Linked DNA regions of Homo sapiens: region 2 is linked to region 1. Evidence: fine-mapped expression QTL. Tissue or cell type: spleen. Region 1 holds a variant in brackets; the other region holds the start of a gene. All regions are shown on one strand. Distances are from middle to middle.

What was found. PIP is the estimated chance that this variant, and not a neighbour inherited with it, causes the effect.
Region 2: NPR3 starts here. The variant in region 1 is fine-mapped to the expression of NPR3 in spleen (GTEx, PIP above 0.99).

The regions. Positions count from the first base shown.
Region 1 is chr5:33,177,903-33,186,010 of GRCh38, reverse strand. No RefSeq gene overlaps it. Among named protein-coding and RNA genes, the nearest start is that of LINC02160, 48 kb to the left of the region's middle. The variant AACTG/G (reference allele first, on the strand shown) is at 3,357.
Region 2 is chr5:32,706,908-32,715,015 of GRCh38, reverse strand. NPR3 (natriuretic peptide receptor 3) reads right to left here and starts at 3,695. Exons shown (of 8, transcript NM_001204375.2): 1 at 2,471-3,695. The coding sequence starts at 3,239. RefSeq lists a silencer at 2,439-2,733 and an enhancer at 2,609-3,334.

The sequences.
Region 1 (8,108 bases):
CAAAACTCTGTCTCAAAAAAAAAAAAAAAAAAAAAGAATATTACATGATAGAGTAAAAGCAGTACTTAGAGGTAAATTTATACTACAAATGACTATATTAAAATATATCCTACCCTTCTGTATTGACATTGGGAAAAGGAGAGTAAACTAAACCTAAAACTAGCAGAAGCAAGGAAATAAATATTAGAAAGGAAATTAATGAGATGTAGAATAGAAAAACAGAGAAAAATAATGAAACCAAAAGCTGGTTCCCTGAAATGACTAATGAAATTGACAAACCTTTAGCTCAACTAACCAAGAACAAAAAAAGGACTCAAATGACTAGAATCAGAAATGAAAAGGGGGACAAAACTACTAACCCTAGAGAAATAAAGAAGATTACAAAGGCATAATTGAAGAACTGTATATTAAAGTATTAGACACCTTAGATGAAATGGTCAAATTCCATTTTAGAAGGACTATATTAAAATAGATCATAACTTTCCATATTAAATCAATTCAAGGAGAATAAGGATTAATTAAACCAATTGTTTGGCATAATTGAATTTTAATAATTTCAGTTCATTGTACAGGCTTCATATATTTAGGTTTTGAATCCCATGTAGCCATGGATACTTCTTTGTCTTTTTCCCTAATAATCAACCCATTATTGATTTCAGGGCTTTAATTGGGTTGAAGAATGAGCACAAATATTAACTGTTCCTGCCTGAAGAATGACGATTATTGTGAAAGGACTTTTTAACGTGTGCAACAAATGATCATAATTTCTTTTTGATTTTTCTTTGTGATAAAGGGAAAAAATAGCATTAGTAATTGTTACAGAAGGTAGTAATAATATATAATAATTATATAATAATGGCAGAGTTAAGTTGAACACAATTTAGTAATCGTTTTGTTCTACAATATTTGTAAGATTCTTTTTCCTTTTGTAGTAAGTTTGTGTCTAAATTTTAAACATCAGACAAGTTGTTTTTAATTTTAGTGATGATCAGAGGAAATTAATGAGAAGCATTTGACTTTGCTTGTCATGCAAAGTGTACTGGTTTTGGTTGGTTTTTGTTTGTTTAACATTTGACACATTCTAGGAGGTACGATTGTTTCGGTTACCTAAACTGTGTTTTATACTATATGAATGAACTTACCCAGGGAATGGAGTAGATGAAAAAGAGAAAGCAGGAAGGAAATCTCAAAGGGATATTTTTATTTCTACAAAATAGCAGACTTGTAGCTTTCCTATCAAAGAAAGAATAATAATTAATTATGGGCCAGCAGCATGAACATGGGCAGCTCCTGGGAGCTTGTTGGAAATACAGACTATCAAATACCACCACAGACCCACTGAATGTGCATTTTCACAAGATCATGTGATTCCTATGCATATTTAAGTGTGAGTAGCCCTGATAAGGTACCCCTCCCCTGTATTATCTAGAAGCACTTTCTGTATTTGTGGTATTCTGCTAGGTGGGGGGTTCTACCCACCTAGCCCAGTGTTTACATTTAGATAAAAGGCTTTAAGCCTTAAGCTGTGAAAGATGTTTATGTAATTTACAACATTACTGATTAAAAGAGAAAGATGTATAAAGCACCAGGAGCTCTAGTTCCATTAAAACTGAACCGTAGGTGTGGTATCTGTTTCACGTGTAAGTAAGCCAGCTTTTTTTCAGTTAACCAGTACAAAGTAATTTAAATTCTTTGCGTCTTGGATTTCACTTGTTGTTAGAAGCTCTGGGCCTAAAAGTTATTATGCAATTTTGAATGAATCTTATAGGGGGTCAGTTTTTAGACAGTTGTGTCTGAAGACTGAGGATGCTATCTGCCCAAGGGGAGAGGGCATACTTTGGAAATTTTGGCACCTTTGGCTGAAAGGAATGTTTGTGGCCTGACTATATTTACTCCGCCTGCCTGAGATTATTCTGTTAGTATTTTGATATAAACCCATGGTAAAAAAGATGAGTATTAAGGAAAATCCGTAAATTATGCTTGCATCAGATTGAGAATTTTGCATTCCACTATCATTGCCTGAGGACATTTGGAGAACTATTAATATATTTAAATGATATAATAGTCCCTAAATGCAGAACCACAGAGAGTGTATTAACCTAAGTATTCTGGACAAATATTAGCAGATTGAATGATGTCAGTATGAACTAAGCCGCTACCAGCTTGAATCTGTTGATACAATTTGCAGTCACATTAAATAGTCAGTTTTATTCATTAAATGACAACTTCATCCTCCAAAAACCCATCTTGTTTGTAGTGTGATATGAATGGAGAAAAGCAGATAAAAAGCAAATATCAGGGCTTTGTTCTTAGCAGTACAGTTTAAGCAATTTTCTCAACACCCTCGTTTAATTTTCTTTCAAGGAATACCTACTATCTGTTAAACACTTTCCACCTGCCCAGTGTTCTAAACTTAATGAAACAACATGGCAGTAACTTTTGCAAAAGGCAGCATTTTCTAATGAAAATGCTCTTTGGTTAAGGAACACCAGAAACACACTTTTAGTTGAACAAGTTGATGATTTATTATTTGATAAAATGAAAGAGAATAAATCCCATGGAATCGTGGGACATCTCAGTAATAGTGTTGTTATGAGTGAATATTTGTGTCCCCCCAAAATTCATATGTTGAAGCCCTGATCTTGATGTAATTGTATTTAGAGACGGGGCCTTTGGGAGGTAATTAGACTTGGATGAAGTCATGAAGATGTGGCCATCATGATGGGATTAGTGCCGTTATAAGAAGAGATATGGTGGGAGTTTCCTTTTCCTCCCACCCCTGCCATATGTGGACACAACGAGAAGGCAGCAGCCATCTACAAGTCAGGAAGTCACCCCTCACCACAAACAGACCACGGTAGCACCCTGACCTCAGACTTCCAGGCTCCAGAACTGTAAGAAAATAAATTCTACTGTTTAAGTCACCCATTCTATGGCATTTTATATGGCAGCCTGAGCAGACCAATACAAGGGTGCTGGAAAGAACCTATAATAGCATTTGAGCATTGGTGGGGTGACTTTTGGGAGGGTCCAAGAAAGCAGAGATTTGCTCTAGATTGGGTACTCTCAAAAAGTGGGGACAATTCCGTGACTGGGTATCTCAGTGAACAGAGAGGGCAGACAAGAAAGAGGATAAAGCTATTTTTTTGTAAAGGAACAGCAGTCACTCATATTAGCCAGGAGATAGGGAGGTTGGGTATTTCGTGGGGGACATAATGACCTTGATTTTGTCTATGCTAAGATAAAATTATAAACTGACGTTGTTTTGTCTCACTTTATCATGGTCTCAGAGTGACCTTTTCTGATATTGGTGTCATGTGAAATTGTTTATGTCCTACAGGGAAATAACATGGCCT[AACTG/G]TGAGTACAAGGCCAGCTTCTTAACAACAGTGAAGCCCAGCCACACATGTCAGACTAGTTCCAGATATTACAGGCTGATTTCCTTTTCACTAGCTAGAAAATTGTTTTCTAGATGTTTTGGAAGAATTATTCCTTCCAGTAGCAAAATATATTTTATTTTAATAAAAGTATTTTTGATTTAGAGTCTTTAATTCATTCAATAAGCAAACATTGAATAGATAAAAGGACCATACATAGACTCTTAAAATTTCAGTTGTGAAATAAAGCTTAAACAGCATCTAATTCAATCTCTCGTTTGATACTGGTATCCTTTCTCTGACATTGCTGCCTAGTAATTGCCTAGTCTGTGTTGGAATGGTTCCAATAAGAGGAAGCACTCACCTTCCTGAGAGAATTCATTCCATAAGTTGAATAATCAAGTTAGACTTTGATTCGTTGTATATTTCATCTATTGGCTTTATTTGTACCCCTGAAGCAACAGAGAGCAAAACTAGTGTTTTCCATAAGAAAGGCATTCTAATCAAGGAAAAAATAATTCACACAAACTAATTCAAAGAAAAAAGTAATTTTTTTTAAAAAAGGCTACAACAGGCAATATCAAAGACAATAAAAAGAAATTCCCATCACACTGAAGCAAGCTAAGCCTCTTCCTCACGTCTTCCAGAGTCATACCATCTCTGATTTCTATTTTTCACTGAGTGTCCTTCCCATTTTTTCCTGCTTGCCAATCAGCATTCTGTTTCCCATTTTACTCGTAGCTTCAGCCAGCTGATTACTTTGGCTTACGGTGGTCCTAGCTCCAATGGAAACTGAAATCCCAAATCTACAGGATATTTTATCTTAAGAGCTTATGAACTTATGAGCTTAAGTGACTCAGTTTTGGATTAGTTCAAATTTAAGGGTAAGGGAAATCTGCTTGGATCAGTTCAGCCTATGATTTTTCTTCCTCTAGGTCAGGTGTTCAGTCTTGTCTAATTGTTCTACTTCTTAAAATGCAGCTTTTGTAGACAAGGGCCAGCACTGTGTTCATTACAGAAACTATTCAAGGTTCAAAGAGTTATTTAGAAATGTACCAGATTAGGGTAGAGGATGTGAAAATATAGAACCATTTAGGAAAATGGTCCCTAAACATACGAAAAATGCTCAACTCACTCATAATATGAATATAAAATAAAACTACTCTGTAATGCCATTTTTCACAGGCCTGTAAAATTGTGGAGTAAAATGTTAGATATGTTAGCCAATATAGCATATCAGAGGCTGTGAGGAAGTAGACCTTTTTACACATTGCTAGTAGGAGTATATATTAGTACAGTTTCTATGGAGATTAATTTGACAATGTGTTCGATTTAGATTTTCATCATTAGGGACGGAATAAATTCATTAAGATGCAGTCATAGAATGAAAACCTATGTAAAAATGATAAACATAGAAATACTTTACTTAGTGATATGGTATTTCCACATAAAAAAAAAAAATCCCACCTTCCTGGGCCCTTCCCCCATCCCCAAAATATCCATTAAAGAAACTAGACTCTGCTACACTGACAGAAGAGGGCACCATTGAACTAAAAATTTTGTAAGCCACCACACATCTACGAAATGGATTAGACAAAAGTGAATAAATCTATACAAATCTGCTATCTACTATAACAAAATCAAAATCAAAATTTTCATCCGATAAAAATTTGTCTTCAGAAAGCATCACGAAGCAGAAGAAAAATGTAATAAAAAGCTCCAAACTTGATTTAGAATTCTTAAGCATTTGTTGATATGAAAACATTAAAGGCAAAGTGGACAAAAAGCTATAGAAATCAAAAGAGATTGACTAAACTCAGGAAAGAAATTAGGAAAAGGAGAAAATTATCATAAATATGAAGACTAAATTAAAGAGTGCCTAAGGGAGGACAGACTGAAATGAAAATTTTATGGTATATTGAAGTAGGAAAACATAAAAGATATTGAAAAGTGACACACAGAAAAGTAAAATGGAACAGAAAAGAAGTGGCTGAAATGGAAGACAGGCAAAGAAGAAGACATATTAATTATAGTCTTTGTGGGTACACTAGCATGTCAGAAATCATCACTAAAGAACTTATCCATGTAACCAAAAACCACCAGTCCCCCAAAAACTATCGAAATAATAATAATAAAAAAAACTATAGTCCCTGAAGCAGAAAAAGAAAACAATAGAACAGGGCTAATATTTAAAACTTTAATTCGAGAACACTTTCCAGAAATAAATGAAGACCTGTATGTGCATATAGTAAGAGCTCAGTGGGTAGCTGGAAAAATCAACCTGGAATGGTGAACTTTGAGGCACATCCTAGTAAAACTATTAGATTTTGAAATCTAAAAAATAATTTTCTTAAGCCCTCCTACCAAAAATATTAAATGATTTACAAGGAGGAAAACATAGACTGGAGTCAGACTTCTCCAAAACAACATACAAAGTAAGACAGCAATAGAGCAACTGTGCAGAGTGGGGAGTGTGGAACTAGGAAGAAATTTTGCATTGGGGATTCTTTATTCAGATCTTAGAACAATAGGTAAAGTCTACTAGGGATGGTTTTTTTTTCTAAATAAAGGGACAACTGGGAAAACTTCAGAAATGGGGTATATGGTAAACATCTACTAGATTTTATCATAGATATGAGATTAAAAGAAATATGGGTACAAAGATATAAGTATAATGTAGAAATATTACATGTTCTGACAATGTAATGATGCAAACAAAAGAGAGAGGATAAAAGAGAGGTAAAGGTAAATAGGAAAGAGAAATAAGCTCTTGGTAGTATATTTTATATGTGAGAATTAAAGGATCATTAAAAACTGATAAATAAGAAGGTAACAGACAACTGAAAAAAATTATTTGCAATATACAGCCAAATAAAGGGCTAGTATCCCTAATGTATAAAGAACTATTAAAATTGAGAAGAAACACCAAAAGCTTGGTAGAAAAGATATGAACAATTTACAAAAAGAGATATAAAATTGACCCTTAAGTATTTGAAAAGTTATTCAGCCTCACTGATAATATAGAAGTGCAAATTGAAACTACAGAAATATATTTTTCATCTCTCAGATTGGAAAAAACTAAAAAGTATGGCAACACATTTGTTGGCGAGGTTATATGTAATCTGGCACTCTCATACTGACAACCTCAAACATGCCAATTGGTACAGCCTTTGGAGAGGGAATTTGGCAGTATCTAGTAAAAGTATTTAGACATTTACCTTTCAATGCAGACACCTTTTCTAGGAATTTATTCTGAAGATTTTCATTCAACAATTCAAAAAAAAATGCACGCATAAAGTTGTTTACTACAGCATTTTTTTGTAATTGCAACATATTGGAAATAACCTAAATGCCTTTATGTAGGAGAGAAGTTGAGCAAATTAGAGACTGTTCATCCAATGTAGTACTATACAGCTTAAAAAGAATAAGGAAGACCTCTATTCTGATATAGAATAACTTGTGGTATACTGTTTTATGAATTTTTAGAAAGCAAAATGCAAAAGAGCATCTAACACCTATAATTTTTATTTAAGGAAAAGGGAAATAGAAATGTATACATATTTGCTTATTTGTACAGAGAAAAACACAAGGAACATAAACTAAAACTAAAAAATAATGAGCTAGTTGCCACCAATGATGATTAGGAATATGAGAGTGAGAGCAAGAGAGAGAGAAGGAATGAGGTAGAATACATGGGTTCGGGGGAGAGATAGTTCTCTATACGTATTTGTATACTTCTGACATTTAGTACCAAGATGATGTTGCACATCCTAAAATAAATGAAGGAATGGATGAAATCAATAGGGTGTGGGGGGATGATGGAATACTAACAGGATAAATGAGGCTAATTGTATTTCAAATGGATAACATAACTATACTGAATGGGAAGGGAGCAGACTCATTTAAAGAGCTTTGAACATTGTATTTTGATTATATATCCTCAGGTTACAGACAAAAAGAACTTTAAACAAACATTTATTCTAGTTAGTAGGTTTATTTTTCACAGGGTGTACTAATCTGTTGTCATGCTGCTAATAAAGGCATACCAGAGACTGGGTAATTTATAAAGAAAAAGAAGTTTAATGGATTCACAGTTTCAGATGGCTGGGGAGGCCTCACAATCATGGCGAAAAGCAAATCATAGCAAAAGCATGTCTTACATGGTGGCAGGCAAGAGAGCTTGTGTAGGGGAACTCTCATTTATAAAACTATCAGATCTCGTGAGACTTATTCACTACCATGAGAATGGTATGAGGGAAAATGCCCACATGATTTAATTATCTCCACCTGGCCCTGCCCTTGACACATGGGGATTATTACAATTCAAGATGAGATTTGGGTGGGGACATAGCCAAACCATATCACAGGGGTATAAATTAGCAATTCTGAAACTATTTGAAGTGTATTCTAGTATAGAGTAATACATAGTAGTATGTGAGACAAGTTTTTTTATTATCAAAGAAGCAAGTTACGGATACATAAAGTGGAGACTAGAATGAAGTTTTTGATGTTACGTTAGAATTTGAGATGCCATTATGAACTCATGGCTTTAAAACATATAATAAAATATATGTAAATAGAAACAGATCTGTGTGTGTGTGGGGGGGGGGCGTGTTCTATCTTTGTTCACGAAGATAACCTAGAAACAATACCATTTAATACCATCGAGCATCCCTGCCATCCAGATGTAGTTTCTAAATACCATTGTTTACTAAAAGGAATAGGGGTTCC
Region 2 (8,108 bases), 470 kb after region 1:
CTTCTGGCAGTGCTCCCAGGCATTCCTGGGTTAGCTTCTGTAACCCTCACAGTTTCCCAAAGACGTGGGTGCTCTGACTACCCCCACTTTACCTAAGGAGCTCGAGGTACAGAGGTTTCATAGCAGTCCAAGATCCCCCAGCCGGTGACTGAGCCAGAAACTTCACTGCAATCATGTACCGAAGCCCTATTTAATACATTAAGTGCTTACGGTAAAGTAACTGTGTTACTTCAATGTATTTTTAAAAGGTCCCCTAAGAGAGCTTTGTTATCAAGTAACTTTTTCTCTCGAGTGTAAGGAATTTCGGGGTGGAAGGATGATTAGAGGCGATTGGAGGACGATTAGAGGAGAAACTGTTTTGTTTCCTATTTCTAAATATCTGCCAGGTCACTGTTGGAAATACTTTTTAGAGTAAGAATTGTAAAATCCTAACCTTATCACTTGTAAAATATACAGGTCAGTTAAGCAAACTTTCACCCCTCAATGCAAACTTGGAAAAAAAAAAAAAAAGCAAAGAGACTTCGGAACGTCTATGAGGCTTTTGGAATTAAAAAATAATTCTTACAGCCGACTGCAGCCCTAGTCCTCAGAAGCCCGGGGCGCACCAGTCCCCAGGCCCACCAGGGCACTGCTGTCCGCCCAGCCCCAGGCCTCAGCCACCACTGTGAGGGCGAGGGGCCCCGGGGCCGCGATCTGCCCTCCTCTGGTCTCACACATGCCCTTGGTTTTGTATCCCAGGCCACGTGCGCCGGGGCAGCCGCTGACATTGGGATCTACAGGGTAGTGACATTACGGACGAGTCAGCAAACCGCGGATCTCGCCCATAGGGGGACACACCCCCAGTCCCAGCCGGCCTTGGGAAGTCTCTGACTTCTAGCGCCTAGCCCTCGAAAGCCGAGAACTGGAGAAGCAGGTTCCGGGAGCCTTAGCAGCCCGGGGCGCAGACACCCCCGTGGAGGCTGCAGTAACCTGGCGACTGGGACTTGGGAGTGTAGATGTGGGTTCCTTGCCGAGGCGTGGCAGGCGTGGCAAGTCCGCAGCCGTTGGACACACGTGCCCTTTTTCATAATCGGCAAAGCCTGCGCCCCGCCTGCTTGGCTGGTAGGAATTCGGCACAGACAGCCTGGAGTTCCAGAGCTCAAAATTTGGCCATGCATTCCCACTGTCAAACACCTCTCGCCTCTTTGCTCTAAAGGGTGAGTCCGAGGTGGCCAAGATGGCAAGGCGGTGACAGCAGCGCCATTATCGATGGCTTCTCTGTCCACTCTCACCTGTTCCTGGGGCCTTCGGCCTCAGGTTGCGCTGTCCCCTACGACCAGCGCCCAGGTGCTCGGCCATGCCAAGTTGTGGACTAGCCCGGCGCCTGGCTCAACTCCGCTCCCCTTCGGTCTCATCCGCGTGGCACTGGGGTCTCGGGGAGCTTTGCCGGGATTGCACCACTCACATTCCAGGCGCGTGAGCGCCAAGGGGGAGCAGAGACGGGATTCCCTCATCGCAGTGCTCCTAATCCCTGACTAGAGGGAGGAGGGATCGGCGCTATACCGGCATCTCAGTCCGCCTTCCCTCAGATTCTACCCTACCGTAAAATGGGCCACACTGGCGATTACACGTCCGCGTCCCCCCGCTCCCCGAAGCCATAGCCACCATCCTCAGCCTCGAGCTCTTTGTCCAGTTTGGGTTTTATTCCAACACCCAAAGACCCATGGAGAAAACTTGGGGGACAGGTGGAAAGAAGGTTCAGCGCTCGTTTCTTCAAAAGGCACTCCCGCAAAGCTTAGCTCTGGGCGCATTAGAAACTGCGTTGCAGAACACTCTGGGAGAAGTGAGTGTCGCCAGAATTCAGACACACAGGGGCATTTTTGGTGGAAACCACAGAAGCTCGTTTATAAGGGGCTGGAAGGGAAATGAAAGGAATGAGAAGAGTGAGTCAACAAGCCTTTAAAAGAAACCTGGGGTCTGTGGAAACAACAGTCAGAGAAACCCCAAGAGCGGGCGAGCTAAGTGGCGACGCCTCGCTGCGAGGCGTCCGCGGACGCTTCCGCACTAAGTGGGGGCGCACGCTGGCAAAGGACTGGGGAACAAGTTCTTTCCGCCTCGGATGCTTCAGACCCTGGATGGAGCCAGGCACTGGGAGTGCGCCCCCTAATCACCAGCCCGGCGCTGGCAAAGTGGAAACTGGGAAGAAAAAACATCGAAGTGTTTGACAGCACCTGTTGGACCTGGGCACGCAGGAGCTACAGACGCCCTCTCCTCCAACCCCTTCACCTCCCTGGGACCCTCTACGTACACCGCGATGGGCGGTCGTCAAAGGTTGTCGCAGCCACACGGCGCATACCTGAACGAGTGCCCGCGCGCACCCGACCTCAGCGCCGCAGTGGGGAGTGGGGTCTGCAGAGTGGACGAGTGTGCAGGGAGAGCCGCGGAGAGCGGTTGGGTTAGGGCCCGGGGCCCGGGACGCGCCCCTGCTCACCTCTCTCACTGGCCTGGATATTGCGCACGATGTCTTCCAGATCCAAGTCTTTGGTCTCGTCGAAACTGTAGATGGACGTGTGCAAACCCTCCTCCTGGAAGACCTCGTGGACCCCCTCGAGGGTGAAGTAGCAGTTCCGCTCCAGCTTGTCGTCGCTGTAGACCAGTGCAGCGCGGCTCCAGTGGTGGTGGCGGAACAGGGCGAGCATCATCTCGCCCATCTTGGCGTAGGCGGGCGCCACGCGCGTGAGGTGCGAGTACTCAGAGTCCTTGTGCTGGAAGCCAGCGGCCAGCGCCCCAGCCGACAGCATGGGCAGGTCCCAGTGCGATGCAAGCCGGGCCACTGGCGCTGCTGCATACTCGCACACTGGCCCCAGGATAAGGTCTGGCTTGGCGCCCCGCGCCGCCGCCACGCGGTCCACCAAGCTGAAGAGCGCACGGTTCCCACAGTCTGAATCCTCGTAAGCCACCTGGAAGCGAGTGCCCGGCGGCAGAAGCCGCCTCCCAGTCCCGTTGCCCTCCACGCTGCGCAGAGCATACTCGATGGCCGGCCGCACCCGGGTGAGTGAAAACAAGTACGAGTCATCCTGGGGCAGTAACACCAGCACCTCGATCTTCTGTGGCGGCAGCGCCTCTCTCTCCTGGCGTCCGCCGCCTATGCCCGCGCCACCGCCGCCGCCGCCAACGCCACCGCCACCGGTGCCGCCGGCCAGCAACGCCCAGCCGAGTAGTACGCACGGGGAGAAAGTGAGCACCAGCAGAGACGGCATCGTGCCGCAAGAAAGAGCTTGCCCTCGCCGCCGCCGACTCGCCCTCTGCCCCCCACCCACCCTTCCTCTTTCCTCCCCACTCTTCTCTCCAAGGTCCCTGCGCCCCCTTGGGCGCTTTAACAAAATAGAATACCCCCTTCACTAATGCGCCAAAAGATAGAGAGGAAGCGTCCTTCTCTGCAATGTCACTAGTTTTTCTTAAAAAAAAAAGAAAAAGAAAAAGAAAAAGTTCACCGGGTGTAAACCTGTGCGTCTGTAATATACATATATATATACTTGTATATATTCGCCCTCCGTTTATACATATACTATTTTGCTTAGAGGTGGCTTCTTATTTGGGCGTTGCTAAGGTTGCTTTTGAAAGCGTTTTTGTAGAAGAAAAAAAAAGTTAGACTTGTCCAAGTGTTTGTAATTGACGGTGCATCTCCCTCGCATTTGATCTCATTGATTCGCGCCGGTTCCTGGATCCATAGCCCGCGTTTAAATAGCGTGGCAGCGGCTGAGCGTGTTACCACACATGGCGCGCCGAGGCCGGGCTTGTGTTTCCAGCGGGTGGGGTGGGTGGGGGTGGGGAGATGTGGGGGCTGGGCTGGGGGAGTCTCTCATTAACATTCTTACATCAGGGCTCCTCCCTGCACCCCTTCACTACCCATCGCGCCCCTGTCCCTAACCACCACTCCCCGCAGGCCCTCTGCCTTTTCCTTAAAGCTGAAATCGCCCACGTCTGCACCGGCAAGAGCCCCCACCACGCCGCGTGCCTGTGCGATCACCGCCTCTCCCTTTCCACGCTCTCCAGCTCCTGGCTTCAAAAAAGGAAACGTGCTTTAAAGTAGAGAAATGCGCGCGCGCACGCACACATACACACACACACACACACACACATATACACACACACACCGTGCAAAAAAAAAAAAAAACCAGGACTGGGGGAAAGGGATGGTTCTAGAAATTGTGGTTTCGGTGCAAAAATCCTTAGGTGCCGCTTGCTCTCACCTTTCTCGTTCTGGCCACATTCCCTCCTGAAGCACCGACGCGGGGCGAGCACCTGACCTTCCTGGTCCCTCGGCGCAAGGTCAGGGAACAAGGACCAAGGTCCCAGTGCAGATGGCTCCATCGCGGACCTGGTGTGCCCGGCTGGCCCGGGCGTCACCTACACCCCGCCTTCCTCAGCCCCGCGCCAGCCCCCTCCCCCTGGGCCACGCAGGTTTGCGCTGGAATCGCAGCGGTGCCGAGGTCACAGTGTCCCAGCTCACGGACCCTCTGTCAGCGCACTGAGAGCAGGAAAGTGAAACTTGTTGCTCCCAAAGGCGAGGGAATGGTTCAACTTCTGGAGGTGTCACAAAGCTTGGAAAGCATCCCCAAAGCGTCCTCGGGGCTTTGTTTGCTAAACCAGGTACCTAAATAAAGGGACTGTCTTTCCCAAAACGTTCCCGGTAGGTCCCCCGGGTACGACACACGCTCCCCTCCAACCTGAGTGCTCAAAGATCCAACCGCTCCTTCTCTGGAGCGCTCGAGGCACTGTGCTGGGGTTCCGCGACTCCAAGAAAGGTCCTGCCTCGGAGACCCAGTCCTCCCACTGGCCATAGCCACAGCAGCGGTGGAGACCGGAGGGAAGCGGCTCTGGAGAAGTCCGTGACCAGAGGAGCATCGCGGGAGTCCGCCGCGCGGCGGGGCGGGTCAAAATGGAACTGGACCTTCTGTGCCTACTGCAGCCAAGTCATTTGCAATGTGAACGGGCTACACTGGGCGGGAGAATTCTGACAATTAAGTCCCGCACATTTAAATACATTGAAAATGTGTTAAAATGGTCTTTCATTTGACTAGGCGTCCGTGTCCACAAATTTCTTTTAGTCTCAGACCGACGCCCTCTTTCGGCAGAAACTTGCACCCGACTCAACCCGGGTGCCGCAGTCCCAGACGCTGCGTTTTTTACTCCGAGGCCTTTAACGCGCTCTGGTTCTCACTTGCGACGGTGAAAAGGCAAACTGGGGTTTCTGGGGATATGGCAACTTCTGGCGTCAGCGCTCGCCTCCCTTAACAGCACTCTCCTTATCGCTCTTTCTGGAACCGTCAATGTGATTATGGGTAATGTTTCAGCTTCTGGGTCATTTATATTCAGATTATGCACTGTGATCCCGAAATCTTCACTGTTAAGTAGGAGCTTCTAATTCCTGCGAGAATTTCCATTTATTTAATTAGAGCCACTAACCAGGAGCAAAAGAGACATCTGTATAAAATTTAATTCCACAAACAGGGTAATCCACACACACTGGAAATTGAGATTTAGTGCTCCACAGCAATTAAATCTTTCCTGAATTTGCAGAAGGGCAGGCGTTTATGGCAGCACAGATTAAAAAAAAAAAAAAAGAAAAAGAACAACAACAAAACAAGAACTAAATCATGAATTCCAAGGGTCTTAATGGATTTCGAAACTGGTTGCCAGGCACTGTGCTGGGGTTCCGAGACTCCAAGAAAGGTCCTGCCTCGGAGACCCAGTCCTACCACTGGCCACAGTGGTAGGAACCAGTGTTTCCTATTACTCTGCGGTATGCCCTGTGTCTGCGGAACACCAGCCAATGGCGATATGATTCTGCCGCGTGTGGTGTGGGTTTATGCGGAGAGTCTGGGGTTTCAGTGGCACCGGTGTGAACGCCTGTCCCATCCCAGATGCTACCTAGCCTCGCCTGCAGTTCAACAGCAGGGCAGTGCGCTTAAGTAAGGGTGAGTGCCCGTAGCCTCTCCGCAGCTTTTGGACAAGAGCTCTCGACTTGCAGTTTGTCACACTCAAGAGCAGCAACAAGACCAAGCTGCGGAAGGGAAGAGACCCCAAACCAAGCAGCGGAACGAATTAAAAAAAAAAAAAAAGCCAGTGTTATGCTTTTGCTGAAGCTCAAAACACCCCTTAAGAATTCCAGTGAGCAACAATTAGGGTTTTTAAAAAACCTTTTCAAATGAAAAGAGTCACAAGATTATGGGAAGACCCACCAAGTAATGTAAGTGTATGGATTTCAAAGTTACGGGTTTGTTTACTTTCCATCAAGTTAGAATTTTTGCAACCAACTGAAAGTTTGTGTAAATAAGTAGTTCTAAATCTTCAGGCCAGAAGACTTAAGTCACCCAGCCTGACACCCCTTACTCTCTAGATGAATTAAGGCCCAAACAGTATAAGTGATATACTTAAATACCTCTTCATCCCCTGAGAATATTTTTAAATGGGATTGTATTCAAAGTAAACCAAGGACCACCAGTTACATCATGTGAAAGTGTTAGGAACAAAGTTAATTTCTACTCTAAGTAATAACATTCTTTATATCAAATTTTTATATATATATATAGCTAAGTTTGGAGGCTAATACAGCACAATAAACCCAAAAATAACATTTTGTAATAGAATTTTTGCAGCACTTTAATCACAAAAATGAATCAAAAGGAAAAAATAGAAATAACTTATTTATTTGACTCAATTTTTAAATATTATTTCTTTCAATTCTGTAAAACACTGAAATGGGGAAAAATAAGTATTTTTTTAACATTCAAAAGAGTGGTAACCTTTTTACTAGGTGCTTCCTTTCTGGCTTCAGTTGTTGAATGAAACCAAAGGAAAGTTATGGGAAAATGCTGCAAAATGAAAGAAAATTAGCCATTTGAAAGAAAGACAATGTTAGCTCTAAACAGGATATTTCAGAAACTAATAGACTTTTTATGAGGTTTAGAAATGTTTTACTTAATATCCACAAACCATGTTTTGTTGTTTGGGTTGTTTTTTTTTTTTTTTTTTTTAAAGCTACTACAATAAGGTGGCAAGCTACTACAATAAGGTGGCAAGTTTTCTATAAAGTATTCAACGGTTTATTTTCCAGCTCTATGAAATGAAATTACTGTCTATATGTTATTTCTCACTACCAGGAAAGACAGCATTAATATAGGAAAACTAACATGTGATTCTTTGAAGTGTATTAGAAATTCTATCAGAAGTAAGTTTTCTCCACCACCAACTGTAACAGTCTCTGCAACTCTTCTCCCTTGGCATCCTGGCTGCAACCTCTAAACTAAGAACCCACCTAGATTTTCAGAGGTCCTTTTCTCCCTTGTTGAGCCAGCCCTAAAGTTGTATTCGAGAATACCCCTGTGAAGCCTGTGGCCCACAATAAAATACCTTCTGAGGCCAGAATTGTTGAAAACACACTCCCCCCTAGAGGCAGAAAAGATGAAAGAACATTACAAATAATTCAAGAACATTTCTGTAATGTAATCAGTGTTGAGATTTCATTCTTTACATATAGTTGCTGTTTTAGAGTGAACTATTCAAGAAGTGGGGAAAAAAAATCAATGGATGCCAAAAAATTAAATTAAAATTTTGCCTCTAGGTTCTTACTTTCCTTAGCAGGGACTTTATTAACTTACTCTTTTTCTTCTATTATATAAATCTATTATTTTAATTTGCCAGCACTATAAATAATAGTAATTTTATATTTTTCTAATTAAATTTATAATTCAATCTCATCAGAAGCTGCAGCTAAATGTGACCTTAAGGGGTTCTTTTGAAAACACAGAGTTGTTTCTTTATTATAATCCTCTTAGATTTCCATCAACTACCATCTTTTTTTCACTTCTTTGAAGATGTTCTGAGGCAAAGTGACATTAGAAAGACTTCTGAAAAACGTATAGCTAGTCAGTGATTTAACCTGAATACTGGCATAAGATTTGCAAGCTATATGAAGAATTCTCATATCATTGATTTATAGACAAGTTAATTTATGTAGATTATTATATTCACAAAAACGAGTGTGAATGGGGACTTCAAAAAGTTCATGTAAAATGGAATTAAAAGATAAAAATTTAAAATATGAACTTTATTTCTTAACAAAA